4 linked regions of the Homo sapiens genome follow. The protein of the gene in region 4 interacts with the protein of the main gene of each other region in a biochemical or structural test. Each region holds a gene or a part of one and is shown on either strand. Other genes may lie near its edges.

The links. The genes of interacting proteins can lie anywhere in the genome.
Region 1: the proteins of RPL4 (region 4) and TNPO2 form a complex in vitro, tested with the Homo sapiens proteins (one study listed by BioGRID).
Region 2: the proteins of RPL4 (region 4) and APBB1 form a complex in vitro, tested with the Homo sapiens proteins (one study listed by BioGRID).
Region 3: the proteins of RPL4 (region 4) and MYB form a complex in vitro, tested with the Homo sapiens proteins (one study listed by BioGRID).

The regions. Positions count from the first base shown.
Region 1 is NC_000019.10:12,703,422-12,706,932, forward strand, and holds part of TNPO2 (transportin-2), read right to left. Parts: intron 3,375-3,511; coding exon 3,149-3,374; intron 3,098-3,148; exon of another isoform or gene 3,028-3,097; intron 2,947-3,027; coding exon 2,775-2,946; intron 2,348-2,774; coding exon 2,261-2,347; intron 2,179-2,260; coding exon 2,071-2,178; intron 1,978-2,070; coding exon 1,819-1,977; intron 381-1,818; coding exon 293-380; intron 251-292; exon of another isoform or gene 176-250; intron 106-175; coding exon 7-105; intron 1-6. UniProt on the Homo sapiens protein: Probably functions in nuclear protein import as nuclear transport receptor. Serves as receptor for nuclear localization signals (NLS) in cargo substrates.
Region 2 is NC_000011.10:6,395,084-6,398,594, forward strand, and holds the end of APBB1 (amyloid beta precursor protein binding family B member 1), read right to left. Parts: intron 1,133-3,511; coding exon 1,017-1,132; intron 880-1,016; coding exon 703-879; intron 619-702; coding exon 451-618; 3' UTR 42-450; downstream 1-41. UniProt on the Homo sapiens protein: Transcription coregulator that can have both coactivator and corepressor functions. Adapter protein that forms a transcriptionally active complex with the gamma-secretase-derived amyloid precursor protein (APP) intracellular domain.
Region 3 is NC_000006.12:135,201,808-135,205,318, forward strand, and holds part of MYB (transcriptional activator Myb), read left to right. Parts: intron 1-1,409; coding exon 1,410-1,517; intron 1,518-3,511. UniProt on the Homo sapiens protein: Transcriptional activator; DNA-binding protein that specifically recognize the sequence 5'-YAAC[GT]G-3'. Plays an important role in the control of proliferation and differentiation of hematopoietic progenitor cells.
Region 4 is NC_000015.10:66,499,686-66,501,855, reverse strand, and holds part of RPL4 (large ribosomal subunit protein uL4), read left to right. Parts: coding exon 1-68; intron 69-351; coding exon 352-481; intron 482-537; exon of another isoform or gene 538-604; intron 605-750; coding exon 751-907; intron 908-1,479; coding exon 1,480-1,563; intron 1,564-1,679; coding exon 1,680-1,800; intron 1,801-2,170. UniProt on the Homo sapiens protein: Component of the large ribosomal subunit. The ribosome is a large ribonucleoprotein complex responsible for the synthesis of proteins in the cell.

The DNA.
Region 1 (3,511 bases), on a different chromosome or scaffold from region 4:
ACTCACCCATCTGCATGCAGATTTCACCAATGGCCCAGGTGGCGTTGTTGCAGACGGAGATGAACTCTGGGTTCAGGTTGGTGCCCAGAATGGGCATGAACTCGGCTGGTGGGGAGAAACAGGGGTGCTGAGAAGGAGGGCCAGCCAGGGTAAGCTGCAGGACCTAGTCCAGCAGGCCCCATCAGACAGTACGAATACATCCCAATGTGGTCACAGTCATCCCCGGGTATTGCTCTCCATCACTTGAGGCCGGGGCTGGGGTCATGGGTTAGGGACAAGGCGAGTGTCGTACCGATACAGGGCTTGACATGGATGAAGCAGGCTTTGGTGAGGTCTCCCAGGAGGGCAAAGGAGCTCTGCCGGACCTCAGGCATCGAGTCCTGGGGATTCAAGTAAGATCAGTGTGGCTAGGCTCCCCTCCTTCTAACCAGGACAGCTCAGGGGGCACAGTCCCTGGTGCATGTCCAGCCTCTGCCACTTTCCAGTTCTAGAGCTCCTAGCTGTTCCTTAACCTCCCTAGCCTCCAGCCCACATCTGCAAATGGGAGATGGCAGTGCCCCAACGGTCATCCCTCAGTGTCCGTGGGGGATTCTTTCCAGGTCCCTGCAGATATAAAAATCCACGGATGTGCAAGTCCTTGATATAAAGTGGCACAGTGTTAGGGCCAGGCGCAGTGGTTCATGCCTGTAATCTCCAGCACTTTGGCAGGCCGAGGCAGGCAGATCACTTGAGGTCAGGAGTTTGAGACCAGCCTGGCCAACATGGCAAAACCCTGTCTTTACTAAAAATACAATAAAATTAGCCAGGCATAGTGGGACACGCCTGTAGTCCCAGCTTCTTGAGAGGCTAAGGCAGGAGAACTGCTTGAACCCTGGAGGTGAAGGTTGCAGTGAGCCGAGATCACACCATTGCACTCCAGCCTGGGTGACAGAGTGAGACTCTGTCTCAAAAAACAGGTGGGGGGCGGTGGGGGGGGCATAGTGTTTGCATATGCACCTATGCACATTCTCCTGTACACTTAGCATCATCTCTAAATCACTTATATCTAATACAATGTCAACAGTATGGGAATAGTTGTTATACTGTATTGTTTAGGGAATAATAACAAGAACAAACTTCTGTATGCGTTCAGTACAGATGTAATTTTTCCTCTGAGTATTTTCAATCTGAGGTTACTTGAATCTTGGGATGTAGAACCCACAGATACAGAGAGCCAACTGTGCTGGGGCAGGGACTTGGGCTTTCACATTTTCTATTTTCTTTTCTTTCTTTTTTTTTGAAGACAGAGTCTCAGTTTATTGCCCAGGCTGGAGTGCAGTGGCATGATCTCAGCTCACTGCAACCTCTGCCTCCTGGGTTCAAGCAATTCTCCTGCCTCAGCCTTCCAAGTAGCTGGGATTACAGGCGCCTACCACCATGCCTGGCTAATTTTTGTATTTTTCGTAGAGACAGGATTTCACCGTGTTGGCCAAGCTGCTCTCAAACTCCTGACCTCAAGTGATTCACCTGCCACAGCCTCCCAAAGTGCTGGATTATAGGCGTGAGCACCTGGCCTCACATTTTCTATTTTCAATACTGTTTGCTTTAAAAAAAATTTTTTTTTTTAATTTTAGAACTGGGGTTTCACTATGTTGCCCAGGCTGGTCTCAAACTCCTGGGCTCAAGCAATCCTGCCTCGGCCTCCAGGATTACTCTTTAAAATAATTAGAACAGCACCTTTTCCCTGATTTCCTTTGGGCACAACCAGGCCCTGACTCCCCACCAGGGGCAGCCCACGCAGGCTGCTGGGTGTCATCACTGTCCAGGGTCCCCACCCACCTGCATGCACTGGAACAGCAATGTCATGATGTTGCTGCGGGCCACCAGCTGCTCCACGTGACCACCCAGGCCCTCGGCCAGGCCGCTGAGCAGATCCAGTGCTACGATCATGAAGTCCTTGTCGGGAGCCTCATACTGCTCAGGGTGCTGGGTGTACATCTAGACACAGATGCCGACAGGGGCACGGGTAAGTGGAGCAGGCCCGAGGCAGGCCAATGCAGAAGCACAGGTGACGGGCCTAGGGTTGCTCACCATGGCCTGAGCCAGTGTCTTCTGCACCAGGGTGACACAGCGCTGGTAGACGGGCTCACAGTAAGGCAGGAAGCCACTCTGCAGGGCGGTGGCCACCGATGACAGACACTGGCAGGGAGGAAGGCAGGTGGGGAGAACTCAGGCAGGGTGGGCAGGATGGGTTTCGGGTGAGGGGCAGGAGCCCACTCACCTCCAGCAGGGGGAAGAGGTCCTTGTCTTCGTCCTTGAGCTCATTCCACTTCTGGATCAGTGGGGGCATCAGCTTCTGGATGTATTCCTGGAGAGGGAGCACGAAATGGGCGCTCCCTGGGTCGGGGTGGCAGACTGTGACTCAGGTACCTGTTGCCCGAGTGATGAGGCCTGAGCGCCTCACCGTGGCTCATGGGACCCTGAAAGGCCTGCCATCTGGCCAGACCTCGAGGCCTTCATTCTTCTCACCTGTCCAAGCACCGCCCGCCCCACCCCACCCCCCGGGAGCCTGGGTTACCACCTCCTGGTTCCCGAAGCACAGCACTTACCACGCTGTCTCATAACTGTCTTTCTCCCCCACTAGACTGGGAGCAGGGCGAGGGCGGGGCCGGGTCTGTCTGTCTGCCTGTCGAGGTCACGGCCACGTCCCTGGCGTGCAACACGGGGTTGCCACCAGGTCACTGGATGCCCAGGGGCACGGGGATCGGGAGGCGGGAGCCGCTCTGGGGTCTCACCGGCTGGTTGAGGTGGTGGCCTACAGAGTCGGCCAGGGTGCCAATGGCGTCATAGAGGATGAGCAGGTTCTTGTGCTGGTATTTCCCAAAGGCAAAGACAAGGGTGTCCAGGATGTAGCTGAGGTAGGGCACCAGCTCCGTGCAGGCCTCTTCCTCCAGGGTGGCAAAAGCACTGGTGGGAGGGAGGATGAAGCGGGGGCTCAGTGGACCATGGCAGGTGACACTGGGCCATGGGCAGTTGGGGAGGGCAACTCAGGATCAGCCAGTACGAATACGCGATAAATCAGTTCCACATCAACAGTCACAGGTGTCATCACTTCCCAGAGGGTGGCCGGGGGAGAGTGGGGGCTGTGGGATCAGGGGTCCAGGGTCACCTGCAGGCCGCCTCCTGTACCCTCTTGTTGCCATCCAGGATGCGTTTGAGCAGCTCTGTCATCAGGGGCTTGAGGTGCATGTCGGGTGGCTGGCTGACCACCCAGTGGGCATAGCGGCTCAGCGTCCAGCAGGCGATGGAGCGGACCAAGGCCTTCTTATCCGACAGGCACTGGATCAGGTGCGGGATCAGCTCAGGCAGGTAGGGCACCATGCCCTGCATGCAGCCTACAAGGAAAGGGAACCAAGAGGGGGCAGTTTGATTGGGCCCAGCCACACCCACCGTATGGAGAGAAGAGTCAGCCGCACACAACATATAGGGAAACTGAGGCTTAGAGTTTAAATCACTGGCCCAGACTCATTTC
Region 2 (3,511 bases), on a different chromosome or scaffold from region 4:
TAATGGGTTGATGGTGTGGTACAGGCATAAGAAGGCACACAGCAGTGCAGACAGACTTTATTAGTGATATCAATACAGCAGAGGTGCCCATGGAGCAGGGGGAAGGGACCCATGCCTGGACCAGTCCCTTCCTCCTTCTGCCCCTGCTGGGTCCAGGAGGATGAGGCCTGGCCTGGACCAGTTCCTCCTGTTCCACCTGAAACACATGGGGATGGAGAACCAGGGCTGGCCTTGCTTCCTGCTCCTCTTGTTACCACTCCAGTGTTATCACTTCCTTGAAGGGATTAGATCTCTCCCTCCCCAGCTCCTAGGCAGGGAACCGTAGCTACTGGGGAGGGGCATATTTGGGAGGCCTGAGGCCTAGGAATAGCCTCTAGACCCCTCCCTGACCCACACCCTTTAGTTCCCTGGGGCCCAACACAAGCAGGTGGAGGGAAGGTGGGGGCTTCTTCATGGGGTATGGGCCCCCAGCCGTTTGGGCTTCAGGGAGCCCCACAGCGACTGAACACCCCTGCGGACAGTCCACCCTACACGCCGTGCCACAGACTCAGCAGGGGGTGCTGGGAGGCAGGAGGTGGAGGCCTGGGAACGGGCATCCAGACACTTCTGGTAGCGAAGCTGCGGAGGCAAGCAGGGCAGTCACTCCCCAGCCTACCTCCCATGGGGCCACGCCACCACCACACCACCCTACTAGTAGCTTACCATGCACGCAGCCTGCACAGCCTCTGAGAGGCTGGCAGCATTGGGCTCGCACCAGAACATGTGGCAGCAGAAGGAGGCTGGGCCGGCAGCCATGATGAATGCAAACGTGTGGACATCTCTGCCCACGGCCAGGAAGGAGAGGAAACGCACCCGACACTCTCCCAGCACTGCCTCTGTCTGCATGGAGGGAACTCAGTTAAAAAGGAACACCAACCCCACACTGTGTTCCACATCCATCTTAGCAGCTCTTCCCCTCACCCCCAGTCTCCCCTCTATGGCAAGGCGCAGCCACGACTTCTACCCCAGCTCTTTACCTGCTGGTGCAAGATGGTGAGGGTAGCAGGGGCCACACTGACATGACTTGGGGTCCATTGTTCACGGCTGCTGGAGGACAGGACTGACTCGAGGGCCCCATTAATCACATCTACCCCTAGAACATATGGACACAAGATACCACTGAGGGTAGACAGAGGATACCCCAGCTCTACCCTGGACCTCTAGTTCCACCCAATCAAACCCAGGGCCTTTGCCCCATCCCCACTTTGCCAGCCTACATTTTGGACAACGCTGTCCAAGTATCCCTTCCCTGGGGCTCTCCTCCCCTGGCTTCAGTAACTGGACATTTTCCTACTTTTTAAAATCTTGGATCCTAGGCTCGTTATTTTCACCGGCTCTGCCTATTCCTCCACACTTCTGAACTGACTGACCTCTCAAAGTTCTGATTTCCCCAAATCATGCTCTCTCAGCGCTCATCACACTCAGACATCACATTGCTTCACACCACAATAACTCCCAAATCAGACCCTACAGGCCAGTCCTCTCCCAAGACCCAATTATTTTTTAAGATATCTATCTGAGGAGTGATTACTCTGTATCACATTGTGCTAAGTCATTACAGTGTATTACCTCATTTGTGCCCACACAACAACATCACAATAGATTACTTTATTTCCATTTTACAAATAAGGAAACGGAAGAGATAGGTAATATGCCTTAGGTCACATCGAGGAATGGGGACCTGAGCTCAGGCAGTCTGATTCCAGAGCCTGGGTTCTTAGCCATGCCTTTCTCCTACCTCTTCTCTATATTACTAGTTTTCAGAACTAGAAGGGCTTTCAAGATCTTAGTTCTACTCAAGAATGTCTATAATGTGCTCAAGAGCCAAGGAACCCAAGGTTCCTGACTTTCAGATCAATCAACTTTCCCTTATAACACATGGCCTCCTCCACCTCAAACTGCTGTTAAACATTTCCCCTCATGGATCCCACTTTTGCTTGCACTCAGCAGAGCACCAAGGCAGGAGCACATGTTGTGGCAAAGGCATCAGTTCTAGTCCCCACACTCATACGCTGGCTGTGTGATCTACTGTCTCTGCACAATGCCAGTGCAAAAGGCACATGCCTCTGTGGTCCACTCCCAGGCCCTCTGCCCCTTTTAGTGGCTCTCAGCTCCCACTAGGAGCAGACCACGTGGACTCTTTTGGGCAGAGGACAAATGTCTTCCTTGCATGTCTTCTCCCATCTTGGCCTTGCTCATCTGACTTCTAGCTGGATCAAGGCCAAACTGCTCCCAAAAGCATACAAGTCTTCCAAAAACTGGCCTCACCAGAGCTGTCAAGCTTCATATTTTACTGCTCCCTGAGCTTCAGATGATTTGTGTAGCATTATTATTAACAACTAATCTTGGCAAATGGCCTGTAAAGCAGATGGGGAATACAAAGCAAGAGAAGAGAATGCCCTTGAGAGACACAGACTGCAACTGAGGGAAAAGCCTCTGTCTTGAGTGCCCTTTCCCTGCTGGACTGAGAAACTTCAGACTGTCATCCTTCAGGGCTCCAACTAGGTGCTGTCTAGGAAGCCATGCCTGCTGCAGGGCAGGGAGAGGACAACTCTGAGACAACTCTTACCATAACGTCTTGTAACTGCTGGAAAACTTTTTTCCACACTGGGCCGTGGCCATCTCAAGAACAGAAATGGAATTTAATTCATCCCTCTGTCCCCAATTCTAACACAGGGCTTATCTGCTGAAGAAATTCCAGATGCATGAGCAAGTCACTCTCAAGGCAACAAGGGCAAATGCACCCGAACTGGTAAAACCAAGTGTCACAGAAGTGGATGGGCCAGGTCAGATTGCAGAGTGCTTCAAAAGCCAGGCAGAGGGGTGTGATGTTTATGACATTTAGGCCAGGGCAATTGGAAATCTCAAAGTTCAGGTGTGTGAAAGGGACATCATAGTCAAACTGCTGAATAGATGGGGCTGTGGGAGATGGAGCCTGGCCTCAGAGTCTTGGGAAGTTTGGCAGGGAAGCAGTGAAAGCAGTGGACCAAGGTATGGAAAAAGGCTGTCAGATTTGATAACTCAGGACTAAAACCTACACTGTGACCTTGACCTCCAGCCCCACATGCAATCCCCCTAATCCTGCTGTGCTTTTCTCTTCTTTTTTTTTTGTATCAGTTGTTGCCTTCTAACATACTCCATGGTTTACTCATTTTATTGTCTGTCTCTCCTTGCTAGAATGTCAGCTAAATAAAAGCAGGGATCTTTGTCAGTTTTGTTGATTAATGCATGCCAAGAAGCTAGAATAGTGCCTGACATGTATCAGGCATTCATTACCACTTGTTAAATAAATGAATAATTAATGAATGAATATTGCAGCTTCTGGATGGGCTAATGTTTAAAAACGAGCATAAGATAAAGCAGGAAGTAAGTTTAGAGACCACTTGTCCAAGCGGAGCAGTCAAGGGTCACAGGCAGTTGATCTGGCATAGGGAGGACCAGAGTCAAGTGGTAGATGGAAAGAAGCACATAT
Region 3 (3,511 bases), on a different chromosome or scaffold from region 4:
CTGTGTGTGGCATAGGGCTGCTGCGGTTTCAGCACTCCCTCTTTAACACATCTTATTTCTAAATGTTCTCCTGCACATGATTTTTAAAAAATGATTATTAATGTAGAGTATAAAGTTGAGATTTTTTCATGTATTAGAAACATTGCAGACTTTTTCATTATTTGTTTTCTCATTATTTGAGTGCCTTGGCCATTTAAAAAAATCTACATGGATATAAAAACTATGTTCATTTATATATTTTCCTTTATTTGTCTTCTAAATAATATTGTCTTCTTGTTAAGTTGTCTCTTGTTTGGTTTGTGTAGCATCTCATATGGTATCAACCACGTTGTCTATAGTAGATGCCCAGTATTGTACCCAATTGCTTTGGGTTACTACCACCATTTTTAAAGTTTATAATTTGTGAAGGGTTGTCCTTATGTCTTAAGGAAAATCAGAGCTAATAACAGCTGCTAAGATTTATTTAGTAGGTACTAAGTGGTAAGTACTGCTCTAGGGGCTTTCGATGAATTGATTCAGTTAATTCTCACAATTATCCTGTAAGGTTGGTATTATTTTTATTAATTTTTATTTTTTTTGAGACGGAGTTTCGCTCTTGTTGCCCAGACTGGAGTGCAATGGCACGATTTCGGCTCACTGCAACCTCTGCCTCCCGGGTTCAAGCGATTCTCCTGCCTCAGTCTCCCGAGAAGCTGGGATTACAGGCACCCGCCACCACGCCCAGCTAATTTTGAATTTTTAGTAGAGACGGGGTTTCTCCATGTTGGTCAGGCTGGTCTTGAACTCCTGACCTCAGGTGATCTACCCGCCTCGGCCTCCCAAAGTGCTAGGATTACAGGCGTGAGCCACCGCGCCCGGCCAGGTGGGTATTATTATCATTTCTATTATGTCAACTGGAAAACAGAGGCACAAAGAGGCTTAGTCATTTGCTCAAGATTGTATACCTAATAAGGGATGGTGCTGGGTTGGAACTCAGAAGGTCTTGTTCTAAATTCCCTACTTTTCACCATTTTTTGCCAATAATTTATAGCTCTAAAATATTGATAGTTCTGTACCAATATATGAAATAAAGTGTTCTCTCCCCAGAACTTAGTAAATCTTCTATTTTGAAAGGCATGTATTTATTAATTCATTTAGCAGATGTTTTTTGAGTGCCTAACACATGCCTAGAACTCTGGGATCCCAAAGGAGCTTTGTGTTGTGGTGATGTTTGCCACAATGGGATTAAGGTTCAGACATAGTTGATTTCTCCTTTTAGCTCATAGTGGGGAGAATTTCTGGCAGATGACTGCATTTTTTTATGCTAATGTGTATCATCTCATAGTAATCTACTCTCCACAGTGTTAGAAAAATGTGGCTCTCATATTATCCAACCTCATTTAAATTTCAAATTATTCTCTTCCCTTTAGAATATTCTTACAAGCTCCGTTTTAATGGCACCAGCATCAGAAGATGAAGACAATGTTCTCAAAGCATTTACAGTACCTAAAAACAGGTCCCTGGCGAGCCCCTTGCAGGTAATTACTATTCCAACATTGGTATTTTAAAATTCATTCACTGAAAAACTGTCATCTTTGGTGGTGGTGGTGGTGGTGGTGATGGTAGTGCTGGTGGTCTGTTTTTCGTTTTCAACATTTTAGACATAGGGGAGTAATGCTTTTATACAATTCTTGATGTCTAGAAAAATCCAATAATTCCTTTTTGCTACTCATATGAGACATGCTAGAAATTTTTATCAGTGCAGATTCCCCAAAGCATGATGAAATGAAACATTTCTTACTGTGACTGAGACTAAGATGTATTACACGTGTGTCACTATCTTCTTCTGCCCTCAAATGTTTTATAAAAATATATCAATATAGTTTACTTTATGTTCCAAATTTTTTATTTTTTATGCTGTATCCCTAGGCAACCAAAGCTCAGAGACTGTTCCAATTTTAAATGAAGTCTGAAATTAGTCAGACAGAAAATAATTGCAATGTATTTGACTGTCAGAATAAGAAAGTCAACTGTCAATGTTGTGAGGCCGATCTGAAGTTGACCATCTGCTGTCAGGTTTTAATATCAAAAGAGATTTCCCTTGTAACCCTAAAGTGGGTGTGTGTTGATGAAATATAACCAATTCCAAATTAATCCTGAGCCAAATGTAAATAAGAATGCAAATTTTGCTTCCCTAAATTATTTAAAGCAGTTTCTGACATTAAATAGCCCAATACCCAGCCACCTGCAGAGCCCTCTCCTCCATCCCCCTGTGCCATGCAGAGGGAAACTTCATAACCCTAGAGGAAGTGAAGAGCCTGGATTCAGAAGCTGAAGGTCATATTTCTTGCTGTAAGTTAAATGGCACGATCATAGGACAGCAGCCTTTGAGTCTGCCCATTACCTTAAAGGGATTTCCCATTCTTGTGATAGTTTCTCCTTCCAAATTGTGAGAATCTGAAAACTTGCCCGGTAAGTATTTGTGATGCTTAGTTTTTCAGGGTTTTTTGTTGATGTTGCTTTGTTTTTTGAAACAGGGTCTTACCCGGTGGCCCAGGCTGGAGTGTAGTGGGGTGATCTCGGCTCACTGCAACCTCCGCCTCCCAGATTCAAGTGATTCTTATGCCTCAGCCTCCCAATTAGCTGGAATTACAGGTGTGAGCCACCGGCAACCCAGCCGTTTTTTTGTATTTTTGGATAGAGACAAGGTTTTGCCATGTTGGCCAGGCAGGTCTCGAATTCCTGGTTTCAAGTGATCTGCCCACCTCGGCCTCCTACAGTGCTGGGATTACAGGTGTGAGCTACCGCACCTAGCCAGTGCGTAGTATTATTGTAAAATAAGGATTGCAAGCACATTTTGTTTAATTAAATCAGATTGCTTCCTTCCTGGCCTCTCTCTGACAGCAATTGTTTTGGTAAAATGGCTGTGGACTGGAATGTGAGACAGGGAGTCAGTATTTATGGGGAATCTGGACAAGTTCCTGCGTCAGTGAGGCTGGAGTTGGCCCCGTGTGGAGAAGACTCAGAATACCACAAAGAGGCCAGACGCAGTGGCTCATGCCTGTAATCCCAGCACTTTGGGAGGCCAAGGCGGGTGGATAACTTGAGGTCAGGAGTTTGAGACCAGCCTGGCCAACACGGTGAAACCCCATCTCTACTAATCCCAGCTACTCGGGAGGCTGAGACAGGAGGATCGCTTGAACCCAGGAGGCAGAGGCTGCAGTGAGCCGAGATCATGACACTGCACTCCAGCCTGGGTGACAGAATGAGACTCCATCTCAAAAAAAAGAATATCACAAATAATTGGGAGATGAGGAAGAGAATGAACTCCACCCAGACATAAGAGGAACCCAGAAAGGGAGTTACAAAGATTTCAAGGCAAAGGGCAGCCATTTCAAAATTTTCCTGAAAGCTGTTCTTAGGTCCAGAAGAAAAGCTTTTGCTTTTTTTTTTTTTTTTAATTATTCCCACCTAAGTTACTTGGCTCTTGGTTTCTAGAGAACAGAATTCAACTACTGCTATTCGTGTTTTA
Region 4 (2,170 bases):
GCTACAAGAAGACCAAGGAAGCTGTTTTGCTCCTTAAGAAACTTAAAGCCTGGAATGATATCAAAAAGGTCCGTTCAATGAGCACATTTACAGTTTGGTACTCCTTGTTCACAGTTTGTCACTTTGAATTTCAGAAGATAAGGGCAGTATAGCTAATCCTTAATGTGTGAGAGAACAAGAACCTCAGAGCCCGATTACTTGGGTTTGAATCCTAACTGCTGTTTATGGCTCTGTGTAACCTTGGCAAGTTATTGTGCCCAGTTTAATCATCTGTAAAAAGGAATTAAAACTCTGAAGATCTATTGCAGAGATTCTATCTTAATCAGAATACTAAAACTGCTCACTTTGTAGGTCTATGCCTCTCAGCGAATGAGAGCTGGCAAAGGCAAAATGAGAAACCGTCGCCGTATCCAGCGCAGGGGCCCGTGCATCATCTATAATGAGGATAATGGTATCATCAAGGCCTTCAGAAACATCCCTGGTAATTAAACTGCTTACATATATTGACTAGGTATACTCTGCAAGTCTACTCAGCTTTTGTTATGATGAGATTCCACTTAAGGTCCGTGTTTCTGAAACAAATGATTTTGTGGAAGTTCTGATTTATGGCTGAAAGAGTTGCACCATTGATGGTTGAAACTTCATAATTAATAAGTTCTCAGGTACCTTTTATAGCTCTTAAGCCATAAAGATGATTTGTGTTTCTTTTGTTGGAATACAGGCTCCCTAATTTTTCTTTCCCTTTAAAAGGAATTACTCTGCTTAATGTAAGCAAGCTGAACATTTTGAAGCTTGCTCCTGGTGGGCATGTGGGACGTTTCTGCATTTGGACTGAAAGTGCTTTCCGGAAGTTAGATGAATTGTACGGCACTTGGCGTAAAGCCGCTTCCCTCAAGAGTAACTACAAGTAAGTATCTTTCATATACTAAGCACAGATGTTTATATTGTGGATATTAACATTCAGAATTGGCTTACATGTTTTCTAAATTTATTCCCATTTCCCCTTATGTGCAGCAACAGTATGCCAAAATGAGACTCACCTGGTCTATATTTTTGGTTTTTTGTTTTGTTTTTGAGACAGAGTTGTTCTGTCTCACCCACGCTGGAGTGTAGTGGTGTGATCGTGGCTTACTGCAGCCTCCGCCTCCCGGGTTCAAGCAGTTCTCCTGTCTCAGCCTCCCAAGTACCTGGGACTACAGGCTTGTGCCACCACACCCGGCTAATTGTAGAGTTGGGGTTTTACCATGTTGGCCAGGCTGGTCTGGAACTCCTGACCTTAGGTGATCCACCCGCCTCGGCCTCCCCAAGTGCTGGGATTATAGGGGTGAGCCACCACACCCGGCCTGGTCCATGTTTATGAGAAGTGATAGTGTAGTAGATATTTTGGAGAGCATAGTGGCTAAAAATAAAGCTTCAGTTGAGCTTCCTGTTCTTTGGTTGATTACTTTTACATGTACATGTCAATCTTTTCCCTTTCAGTCTTCCCATGCACAAGATGATTAATACAGATCTTAGCAGAATCTTGAAAAGCCCAGAGATCCAAAGAGCCCTTCGAGCACCACGGTAAAGTGATACTTAGAGTGTAATTCTCGCCCCAACCCTATACTATTGGTTGTTTCAAAAATTTGTATGTGTATAATGTTAAGTAAAATGTTGATACAGTATCTGCTTTTTTATAGCAAGAAGATCCATCGCAGAGTCCTAAAGAAGAACCCACTGAAAAACTTGAGAATCATGTTGAAGCTAAACCCATATGCAAAGACCATGCGCCGGAACACCATTCTTCGCCAGGCCAGGAATGTGAGTGGAGTTTTTGTTTGTTTGTTTGTTTTTGAGTCGGAATCTCGCTCTGTCACCCAGGCTGGAGTGCAATGGCGTGATCTCAGCTCACTGCAACCTCCACCTACCAAGTTCAAGCAGTTCTTCTGTCTCAGCCTCCCAAGTAGCTGGCACTACAGGCGCACGCCACCATGTCCGGCTAATTTTTGTATTTTCAGTAGAGACGGGGTGTCACTATATTGTTAGGCTGGTCTCAAACTCCTGACCTCAGGTGATTCACCTGCCTCGGCCTCCCAAAGTGCTGGGATTACAGGCGTGAGCCACCGTGCCCGGCTGGTTTGTTTTGTTTTTGTTTTTCTCTTCCTGATACATTAAGTTCTTACAGGGATTT